Homo sapiens: one gene and its partners. The protein of the gene in region 3 purifies or fractionates together with the protein of the main gene of each other region. This does not show direct contact. Each region holds a gene or a part of one and is shown on either strand. Other genes may lie near its edges. The genes, in order: FCSK, AHR and INF2.

Region 1 (3,648 bases), on a different chromosome or scaffold from region 3:
AGGTTGCGGGGCTTTGGGGACCTTATGGGACAGGGAGGGAGGGTCTGACTTCCTTCGATTCCTTCTAGAAGCCTCCAGGACAAGCTAGAGCTAGAATCTGAGGACAGGGTAGCCTTGGAATTCAGGGTCTTGTCCTGAGCCAGAAAGCCTAGAACCAGGCGGGCACGGTGGCTAACGCCTGTAATCCCAGCACTTTAGGAGGCTGAGGCGGGTGGATCAGTTGAGGTCAGGAGTTCGAGACCAGTCTGGGCAACGTGGTGAAACCCTGTCTCTACTAAATACAACAATTAGCTGAGCATGGTGGTGTGTGCCTGTAATCCCAACTACTTGAGAGGTAGAGGCTCGAGAATCGCTTGAACCCAGGAGGCGGAGGTTGCGGTGAGCAGAGATCGTGCCACTGCACTTCAGCCAGGGTGACAGAGCGAGACTCTGAATCAATCCCCTGCCCGCTGTAAAACAAAACAAAGCAAACCTCAAAAACTCAAACGAAAAAAGAAAGCCTAGAACCAGAATGTGAGCAAGTTAGGGAGTGCGGTTGGGAGGAGGCCTAGAGCCAGACTCCGGGAATGCTTCCATCATGAGGGGCAAGGATTGGAGAGGCATGGAGATCTGGGAGTGGACCATGGCGAGGGTGGAGAACTGGGTTCAGGAGAAGGCCTGACAGTTGAGGGTGTCCCAGAAGGTGTCTTGGTGGGAGCTACCCCAAGTAAGCCTGGAGTCTGGCTGCTGGAGTGGTCAGAAGGTGACACTCCCTGCCTGGTATGGCACTCAGCTTCATGTGGCCCATCTGCATGTGCCCTCCCTGACTTGTACCAGGGCCTGGTCCAGGGCCCTCCATCTCTGATCCTTTTGGGGTCCCTTCCAGGTCTCTGGGGTTGTCTTCTTCTCTGTGGAGACTGCCGAGCGCCTCCTAGCCACCCACGTGAGCCCGCCCCTGGATGCCTGCACCTACCTAGGCTTGGACTCCGGAGCCCGGCCTGTCCAGGTGACTGGGGGAGGGCAGCTAGGTGGGGCCTGGCTTGGGGGCGAGGCACTGTGTGACCTCAGGCCAGCCACTTCCCCTCTCTGGGGCAGAGTCTCCGCAGACGGGACTGCCCTGGTTCAGCCTCAGAACTTGGGGGCTGAACCCCTGCCATGCCAATAGCTGTGCTTCTTCCCCTTCCCCTAGCTGTCTCTGTTTTTTGACATTCTCCACTGCATGGCTGAGAACGTGACCAGGGAGGACTTCCTGGTGGGGAGGCCCCCAGAGTTGGGGCAAGGCGATGCAGATGTAGCGGGTTATCTGCAGAGCGCCCGGGCCCAGCTGTGGAGGGAGCTTCGCGATCAGCCCCTTACCATGGGTGGGTACTGCCTCTCAGCTCCCTGGGGTGGGGAGACCATGGGAGTGAGGACCCCAAGAATGGAGCTGCTCACTGCATGCTGGGCCAGGCAGCCCAGCACAGGGACTGGGCAGTTCTCCTGTCCTGTGCCAGAGCCCCCCACTGAGCTACCTCCTTCCCCTTCTTGTCTTCCTTTTGTCTCATTCCTGGGCTCTCCCAGCCTGTCCACTTTTGTTTCTGTTTTTTTTTGTTTGTTTGTTTTGTTTTTTGAGACGGACTCTCTCTTTGTCGCCCCGGCTAGAGTGAGGTGGTGCGATCTCAGCTCACTGCAACCTCCGCCTCCTGGGTTCAAGCAATTCTCCTGCCTCAGCCTCCTGCGTACCTGGGATAATAGCCATGCATCATCACACTTGGCTAATTTTTCTATTTTTAGTTGGTCAGGCTGGTCTTGAACTCCTGGCCTCAGGTGACCCGCCTGCCTTGGCCTCCCGAAGTGCTGGGCTTACAGGCATGAGCCACCATGCCCGGCCCTAACCTGTCTGCTTTCTTTTTTTTTTTTTGAGACAGAGTATGGCTCTGTTGCCCAGGCTGGAGTGCAGTGGCGTAATTTCGGCTCACTGCAACCTCTGCGTCTCAGGTTCAAGCGATTCTCCTGCCTCAGCTGCCTGAGTAGCTGGGATTACAGGTGCGTGGCACCATGCCTGGCTAATTTTTGTATTTTTAGTAAAGATGGGATTTCACCATGTTGGTCAGGCTGGTCTCGAACTCCTGACCTCGTGATCTGCCTGCCTCGGCCTCCCAAAGTGCTGGGATTACAGGCGTGAGCCACTGTGCCCGGCCAACCTGTCTACTTTCTAGCTGTGTTGTGTGGCTTTGGGCAGGTTCCTGACTCAGCTTCCCCTAACAGGCTCATGGCCACACCTGCCCCCATGTGTCTCTGCTGCTGGGAGGCAGCCTGGCCCCTGAGTCGCAGCAGGCATGGGGTTGGGTTCAGTACTTATGTCTTTACAGCCTATGTCTCCAGCGGCAGCTACAGCTACATGACCTCCTCAGCCAGTGAGTTCCTGCTCAGCCTCACACTCCCCGGGGCTCCTGGGGCCCAGATTGTGCACTCCCAGGTGGAGGTGAGACCTCCCTGCCCCTCCGGTGCCTGCTGGTTGTCTGGGGTCAGGTGGGATGTGGATTCCCGGGAAGAAAATAGCCGGCACTTGGAACAGATGACCCGAGTGCAGGTGTTACCCTGGTTTACACATGAAGTGCTGGAGGCTCAGAGAGGCTAAGTAACTTGCCTAAGGCCACAGAGCCAGTAAGTGGCCAACTCAGGATTCTGCATTGAGCTTGCCTGATTGAGAAGCTAAAGGAGACCTTTATTTGGGGTCTGCCTGGGGTGACAGTGGTGGGCCTGGGTCAGTGCCGTGCTGCTGAGGAAGGGGACAGGTAGGGTTCAGAGGTGGCCCCCAGGGTGGCAAGGTTGGGCGTAGTTGGACAGGTGGGATGGAAATAGGTCTCAGGCTGGGGCCAAGGCAGGTCCAGAGAGGAGTCTAGGGTGCTGCAGGGCAGGGGAGCAGTAGGCCTGGACGCTTTGCCCCTGGATGCTTGGCTTGGGAGGAGAGCTGGGGCAGCCCTGGGCCTCGACCCCCCTCATGCTCCTCCTACCTGGCTGCACAGGAGCAGCAGCTTCTGGCGGCCGGGAGCTCTGTGGTCAGCTGCCTGCTGGAGGGCCCTGTCCAGCTGGGTCCTGGGAGCGTCCTGCAGCACTGCCACCTGCAGGTGAGGCCTGAGCGTGTGGGCAGATTGGGGCGAGGGTGCTGGCATCCCGCATGTGTTGGGGGGTGTTGGGTGCCTGCCCACCCAGGATGCCTGCCCTGTCCCCCACCAGGGCCCCATTCACATAGGCGCTGGCTGCTTGGTGACTGGCCTGGATACAGCCCACTCCAAGGCCCTGCATGGCCGGGAGCTGCGTGACCTTGTCCTGCAGGGACACCACACGCGGCTACACGGCTCCCCGGGCCACGCCTTCACCCTCGTTGGCCGTCTGGACAGCTGGGAGGTAGGCAGTCACCCTGCATTCCCTCACCCCCATCTTCAGGCTTTGGGGAGCCCAAGGAGTCCTGGCCCCCACCCCACTGCGGGGTTCTCTGAGCACTGGCCCGTGGGACAGGCTGTGAGGAGGGTCGGATGTAGGGAGGAGAGAATGAGGGAGGAGATAGGGTGAAGATAGGCTGTGAGACCAGCAGAGTCTCCACAGGCCTTTACCTCCCTCCTTGCATCTGCTCTGCCAGGTGGGCTGGGTGGGGATTTTGTTTTTTTTCTGGAGATAGAGTCTTGC
Region 2 (3,648 bases), on a different chromosome or scaffold from region 3:
CAAAATAATAGCAGCACAAGGAGGAAAAGGCCCTCCTGCACACAGATATTCCACCTCAGACATACACTCACATGTCATTTAACAAAAGGGGCATGTTCTGTGAAATGTGTCCTTAGGCAATTTCATTATCCTGTGAACATCAGAGGGTAGGTTCACAAACCTAGATGGTATAGCTTACTACGCATCTAAGCTATACAGTATAGCCTTTTGTTCCTAGGCTACAAACCTGTACAGCATGCTATCGTACTGAATACTTAAAGCAATTGTAACATGATGGTAAGTATTTGTGTATCTAAACATAGAAAATATACAGTAAAAATACAGTATAAAAGACAAAAAATGGTATACCTGTATAAGAGCACTTATTGTAAACAAGGTAGGCAGGACTGAAAGTTGCTTTGGTTTAGTCAGTGAGTGAGTGGTGAGTGAATGTGAAGGCCTGAGACATTACCGTACACTACTATAGAGTTTATAAACACTATACACTTAGGCTACGCTGAATTTATAAAAAATATTTTCCTTTTGGCCAGGTGCAGTGGCTTATGCCTGTAATCCCAGCACAGTTTACTGTAACATTTTTACTTCATAAACTTTTGCATTTTTAACTTTTGACTCTTCTGTAATAACACTTAAACACAGTGTACAGCCATACAAAAACATTTTCTTTCTTTATATCCTTATTCTATAAGCTTTCTTCTATTTTTTAATTTTTAATTTTTTTACTTTTTAAACTTTTTTTGTTAAAAACTAAGACACAAACCCACACATTAGCTTAGGTCTGTACAGGGTGAGGATCATTAATGATCCTATCTTCCACCTCTACATCTTGTCCCACTGGAAGGTCTGCGGGGGCAATAACATGCATGGAGCTGTCATCTCCTGTGATAACAATGCCTTCTTTTGGAATATTTCCTGAAGGACCTGCCTGAGCCTGTTTTACAGTTAACCTTATTCTAAAATAATGATTAAAATAAAATAATTAAAAGTATAATACATTTAAAAATAAAGTAAAATAATGATTAATAGTAAATACATAGTGATTTATTATTGTTTTATTTTCAAGTATTATGTATCATATATAATTGTATGTGCTATACTTTTTATATGACTGGCAACACAGGTTTGCTTCCATCAGCATCACCATCAACATGTGAGCAATGCTATGACATCATTAAGTGATAGGGATTTTTCGGCTCCATTATGATCTCATGGGACTACCATCATATACATGGTCTGTTATTGACCAAAGCATCATTATGCAGGACATGACTCTACATACTAATTGTTCATGAGCAATAACACTGGGAAAACTGTCTCAAAGCATAATTCTAATTCTGGGTCAGCAAAATCCTCTTCAGAAATAAACACATAAACAAAAATCATTGCTTGGTAATGTTAATTTAAGATTTGATTATCTGTTTCAAATTCCTTGTTATTCACAAAAAGAATATACAATATACTTTGTATTTTCTTCTCCTGTACTTGGTAACATGAGCTAAGGATACAATGAGATAACAGACAAGTCCACTCTGAGGAATCCTAAGCTGTTCCCTACAGTCAACTCCTATGCAGGTGTTCAGACTTTGTAACAAGAAAACAGCATCTCCTATCAAATGATGATTCCACAATCATGAATATACAATCGTTTTTCTATGTGGCAGTTATTTGAGACATATGGAAAGGCCATAATTTCTCTGTCTAGCAGGCATTCAATCCCAAGATGGTAAGCATCCTCCTATTAAAAAAGGGCTACATAATTCTCTCATACCTTAAAAATCCTAAAATAGTCAAAATACAAGGCTTCGTGTTATTTCACTCAATTTTTGTTACTATATCCTAAAGAACAGTTTTCTGAGTTATAGAAGATAGTCAAAATCAGAAATAATTACTTTAAAATGTTACTTTCCTTTATCAAATTATTTGGTAGCAGATTTTTAAAGCTGAAATCAAAGATAACCAAAGAAAATTGGCTTGTTTTTTCTATAACTTAATGTTAAACTAAATTTGGGCTGAAGATGCCTCTGCTCCTTAAGTCCTTACCAAGGAATTGCAACTTCATTTACTATATAAGCTAACGGAAAGCCTAACAGTAGAATTAAACTTTTGTAACCAAATAGCTGAGTCTCAGTCAGTCACAGGTGGCCAACTAATCAGATCATCTTCAAATAAGGCAAATCCCAAGCTGTAATCAATCAAGCCATTTCTGTACCTCACTTGCATTTTCTGTTCATAAATGCTCCAGCCCATGTTTTTAAGTGAGCTCTCTGAAGCTCTCTGGTTCTGAGGGTTGCCTGATTTGGGAATAGTTCTCTGCTGAATTATATTTTGCTAAATTAAATTTGCCTCAAGCTTTTATTGTAACAATAGTAAAAGCCAGTATCATAAAATTTTGTACCTTACCAGAAAACCAGATGAATTATCCAGCAGACACCTTAGACGACATATGAAGCACCTCTCCATTAAAGGAGAGTTTTCTGGAGGAATCTGGTCTGGGTTATAACAGACTACTGTCTGGGGGAGACCAGTGGCTTCTGTAGAAATAAAGGCAAAACAAAATTTACTTTCCATTTTGCTGTAAAATTAAGCACTTGAATAGGTAAAATTTGTATTAGTTTCTAAACTGGAGTCTGTGTTCTGAATACAAAAAAATCATTTTCAAAAGAGCTAATGACAAGAAACTAAAAGTTTATTAAATATCACTTTTATCAGATAGAACTTGCATAATTTTTTAAATTTTTATTGAGCTATCACTGTCAACAATTTTCATATTTTCTAATGCATTTTTGTTTTCTTAACACTTTAACAAATTTCCAAAAACATTTTTTGCATTGAGAAAAGCATTTTTATACTTGCATATGCTAGCTTACTTTTTTCTTTGGTGCATTTTAAACACAATAATTTACATGCACTCAGGTATCAACCTTGTACCTTCCTTCCATCTTTCATGAAGGTACTACTTATTTTTATAAAATACATTACTGACTATGGCAATACTCTGTTGCCTGAAACTCATTAAATGGCTCTCATTTGCCAAAATATTCCTTAGCTCATCAGGCTCTTTGTGACCTAGCTGTGGCCTATGATTGCAGACTTTACATCTTTCCACTACTTCCCTATCATGGAGTTCTATGACCCTACAGGTTCCCAGCCTCCTTTCACAGACTCATATTTAAAAACTACCAACACTATTTTTTGTACCATCAATTCTTACCTTCAATTCCTTGTCCAGACTCTGTACACTGAGAAGGATTTAATGCCCAGTGTAGCTGACGCTGAAATTCAGCTCGGTCTTCGGTATGGATAAGTTCATATACACTCTGATGTATGACATCAGACTAAAGAAAAAAGATACAAGGAATACAACAAAAGGACTGATTAAAAAATATGGCTAAATTAATTTTAAAGCCTATTTAGATTAGTGGGTGCTTGCTAGTGGTGATGAATACGAATTGAATGATTCCTAAAATTCCCTAGTCACCTAAGATAGAACCTAAGGTAGAAAAAGCTAAAGAGACTGGCACTACAACAGATAAGCCAAAAGTTACTTGTCATCAGTTCCCAACATGAATGCTCTTGCTCAAATAAGTCACATCCCCATTCCTTAAATGCAACATATTAAAATCTGTTTATGTTCCATATTCATTTGTT
Region 3 (3,648 bases):
GCCACTGGGTGACCAAGAGGGCCGGGCCTGGGAGGGTGGCTTAAAACCACAGTGCACCGGGGGCTCCGGGCTCTCCGTTCTACAGTGCCCAGACCAGGACCCCCTGCAGGGAGGAGGGGCATCCCAAGGACAGCCTCTCAGGATGCTCCTGGCAGCCTGGTGCTGGAGGTGCAGAAGAAGAAACTGAGGCCCAGGCAGGATGAGTGACTGGGCCAAGGTCTGCTGGTGAGGGCCCGGGCTGGGGACATGCAGATCAGAACCCTGGCTTACACCTGTCAGGCTGCCTCCTGGAAGGAGCCCACTGGCCCCCTGGGGCAGTTGGACAGGTGGAGGGCTGAGGGGCGGTGCGGGGAGTAGGGGCTGGACTGCCGGAAACACCAGGCTTGGTCGTGGACCAGGCTGGGGAGTGGGCCTGAGACCTCAAGGGCAGGTGCTCCAGGACACTCTCCCAAGGCAGGAGGGGAGGAATAGAGCCTCCTGGGGAGGCAGGCGCTTGGGTGCTCGACCCCGCTCAGCTCCCGTGACCTCAAATGCCCTTCAGCCTGGGGTCCCCTGACTTACCGGGTTGGGCAGCACTTGAAGCAAAGCCATGTGGGACCTCCAGTCACAGCCCAGCCGTGCCCAGGTGTGGGACTGTGGGCACAGACCCAGCTTCTCTAGGACCCAGCCGCCTCCAGTTCCCCACCTGTTGTGGGAGGTATAAAGTGCCTGCCTTGGAGGTGGTGGGAAGCCGAGGGCCAGGGTGGAGAGTGCTGGGCCGGGGTGGAGGCTCAGAGCGTGTCCCTGCCAGGCCCGGCCCCCTAGCTCCCTCCCCGAGGCTCCACGCTGCTGTTCTCAGACGCTAAATATAAGATCTAAGCCATACATGGTTGCAGGAGGGCCTGGGATGCCCCTGACCTTCGAGGCCAGTTCCCAGGGTCTGTGGTTGGGGACAGCGGCTGGGGGGATGTGGTGGCGTGGAGCTGATGTCAGAGGTGCAACCCGCCTGTCCTGCTGTTCTGTTTTGGGGAAAGGCACGTGTTGGGGCTCTTCTGGGCTGGGCCTGTTACCTACCCGGGTGTTCCCAGGGCTGGAGTCAGACCTGTTGCGACTGAATCCTGGTAAAACCCTGAGTGCCAAGGGTTTCCGTCTTCCTGTTGGTGTGGGCCCCCTACCCACATGCAGACGGGCAGACTGAGGCCCAGGGGAGACCTGGGAGTCGCCCCTCCTCCCCAGCCACGCTGCTGACGCTGTGGGCACCCCAGGCATGCCTGAGGTTTGGAATCTCCCTGTCCATATTGTCCACTGGGGCGGGGGAAGTGCCCTGGGGTGAGATAAGGCAGCCTCAGATGCGCCGTTTTGTCGCATCATTACCGTGGGTAATGTTCCAGCCAGGGGAGCCTCCCGCTCCCCCGAGTCCTCCCCAAGCTCATCCGGTCCCGTCACTCTGCAGGGGCCGTGCTGGCCTCGTGCTGCAGGTTTCTGAGCCGGCTCCTCCCCTCCCAGCCCTGAGCCTCGGGGTCCTCATGCGCGCAGTAGGGCCCTTCCTGCCTGCCGCCTCGGTTGCTGAAATTCGGTCAGGGATGGGTACAGGGAAGCCTAAGATATAGTGGGGGACACAGTGCTACCCCTAACCCTCAGCATGGCACGTGAGCAGGAATTGCAGCAGAGAAACTGAGACCGAGGGAAGTGGCCCCGCCTGCGCTGGTGGCCAGGAGGACAGCCCCCATCCCCTCCCCGCTGACGGCTCCCTGCCCTCTGCCTGCAGCTCGGCAAGATGTCGGTGAAGGAGGGCGCACAGCGCAAGTGGGCAGCGCTGAAGGAGAAGCTGGGGCCACAGGATTCGGACCCCACGGAGGCCAACCTGGAGAGCGCGGACCCCGAGCTGTGCATCCGGCTGCTCCAGATGCCCTCTGTGGTCAACTACTCCGGCCTGCGCAAGCGCCTGGAGGGCAGCGACGGCGGCTGGATGGTGCAGTTCCTGGAGCAGAGCGGCCTGGACCTGCTGCTGGAGGCGCTGGCGCGGCTGTCGGGCCGCGGCGTTGCACGTATCTCCGACGCCCTGCTGCAGCTCACCTGCGTCAGCTGCGTGCGCGCCGTCATGAACTCGCGGCAGGGCATCGAGTACATCCTCAGCAACCAGGGCTACGTGCGCCAGCTCTCCCAGGGTGAGCCGCAGTGTGGGAGGGCCGCCCAGGCGGACGCTGGGGACCTGGTATGAGGCTTCAGGCCCAAAAGGCCCCGGGAGGCCTGGGGAACCACCAGGAGGAAGCGCAGCCAGGCAGGCAAGGAGGGCTTCCTGGAGGAGGACTGGCTTCCTGGGCTCAGGAAAAACATCCACATTCACTCCGAGTCTGAGGCTTCCAGGTCACCCCAGTCCCCGCACTGCTGCACCAGCGGTCCCCCTGTGCCCCTCTCTGTTGTGTGGCTCTGCCCCACCCTTCCTCCCCGTCCTGTGCTGGCTCCCACCCTCTGGGCTCTCTGCCCTCGTCCACACCTCGGCGGCAGGAGTCACTGAGTCAGAGATGCGAATCCACCCGAGTGGCTCCCTACATACACCTGCCTAGCTCCAAGCCCTTCAGCCTCAGCCCAGACAGAGCCCTTGAGGTCTGGCCCACACCTACTGATGGTGTCACCCTCCACCTCCCAGCGCCTTCCCTAGCGCCTCCCTCCCCGCCCTGTCCCCTACTCCAGCACCCAGGGGACTCGTTCCCGGCAGGCAGGCAGGCCCTTGGTCTCTGCCTCTGCTCGTGTTTTCTGCCTTTGCGTCCTCCAAGGTCCTGCGCCGCTAAGCCTTTAAGCCCCAGCTCACTTTCCTGTCCTCCAGGAAGTCTCCCCAGGCTGTGCCCAAAGTTAGTCCCGGTCCCTTGAGAGAAACCCTTGCTGTGCCACTCCATGGCTGCTGCCAGGTCCTACCGATGCTTGGGGACGAGCTAGGGTGGGCAGTGATGGGCGGGGCTGGGCCCATGGGGGCGGCAGTTACCTGTGCAGGCAAGCAAGCCAGAGGCGCCTCGTTTCTGTCGGACCCAGGGGACAGAGGCAGGTGTAGGGGCCAGCCATTCTCAGCCCGTCTCCCCAGCCTGGGCCTGGCAGGGCCCCTCTATGGAGTCTTTTGTGAATTGTTCTCAGCAGGGTCAGATGAGAGACACCCCCAGAACTTTCACAGCTCCAGATGGGGTGGGAGGCAGGGGTTCATAGGAATGAGGTTGTGTCTGCCATAAACACAGTAAGTGCTGCATTGGGAGAAAAGCTGGGCCCAGAGCCAGTGACAGGATGGGGCAGCTGCCTCCAAGCCCTTCCCTGCAGGGTCTGGCCCTGTGGTCCAGGAGCAGGGCCAGGACACCGAGGAGTGGGGCACCTCGTTGGGTCCCAGCCCACTGCTGTGGGCCACAGACAAGTGCCCGGCACCCCCTGGCGTCTGCCTGCCAGGCCCAGAGCCCCAGCCCTGAGCCCAGCTGCACAGGCATGGGAAGGGGTGCATTGGCCCTGCTGAGCCTGCCCACTCCACCCTGGCAGCCCTGGACACATCCAACGTGATGGTGAAGAAGCAGGTGTTTGAGCTACTGGCTGCCCTGTGCATCTACTCTCCCGAGGGCCACGTGCTGACCCTGGACGCCCTGGACCACTACAAGGTGGGCGGCAGGGCCTGGGCCTGGGCACATGGGGCTC

The links.
Region 1: the proteins of INF2 (region 3) and FCSK purify together in Homo sapiens (affinity purification with mass spectrometry; one large-scale study listed by BioGRID and IntAct). This does not show direct contact.
Region 2: the proteins of INF2 (region 3) and AHR purify together in Homo sapiens (affinity purification with mass spectrometry; one large-scale study listed by BioGRID and IntAct). This does not show direct contact.

Annotation. Positions count from the first base shown.
Region 1 is NC_000016.10:70,467,984-70,471,631, forward strand, and holds part of FCSK (L-fucose kinase), read left to right. Parts: intron 1-865; coding exon 866-985; intron 986-1,168; coding exon 1,169-1,340; intron 1,341-2,330; coding exon 2,331-2,443; intron 2,444-2,987; coding exon 2,988-3,089; intron 3,090-3,198; coding exon 3,199-3,369; intron 3,370-3,648.
Region 2 is NC_000007.14:17,329,639-17,333,286, reverse strand, and holds part of AHR (aryl hydrocarbon receptor), read right to left. Parts: intron 3,336-3,648; coding exon 3,212-3,335; intron 2,532-3,211; coding exon 2,401-2,531; intron 1-2,400. UniProt on the Homo sapiens protein: Ligand-activated transcription factor that enables cells to adapt to changing conditions by sensing compounds from the environment, diet, microbiome and cellular metabolism, and which plays important roles in development, immunity and cancer.
Region 3 is NC_000014.9:104,699,610-104,703,257, forward strand, and holds part of INF2 (inverted formin-2), read left to right. Parts: intron 1-1,747; 5' UTR 1,748-1,756; coding exon 1,757-2,147; intron 2,148-3,495; coding exon 3,496-3,611; intron 3,612-3,648.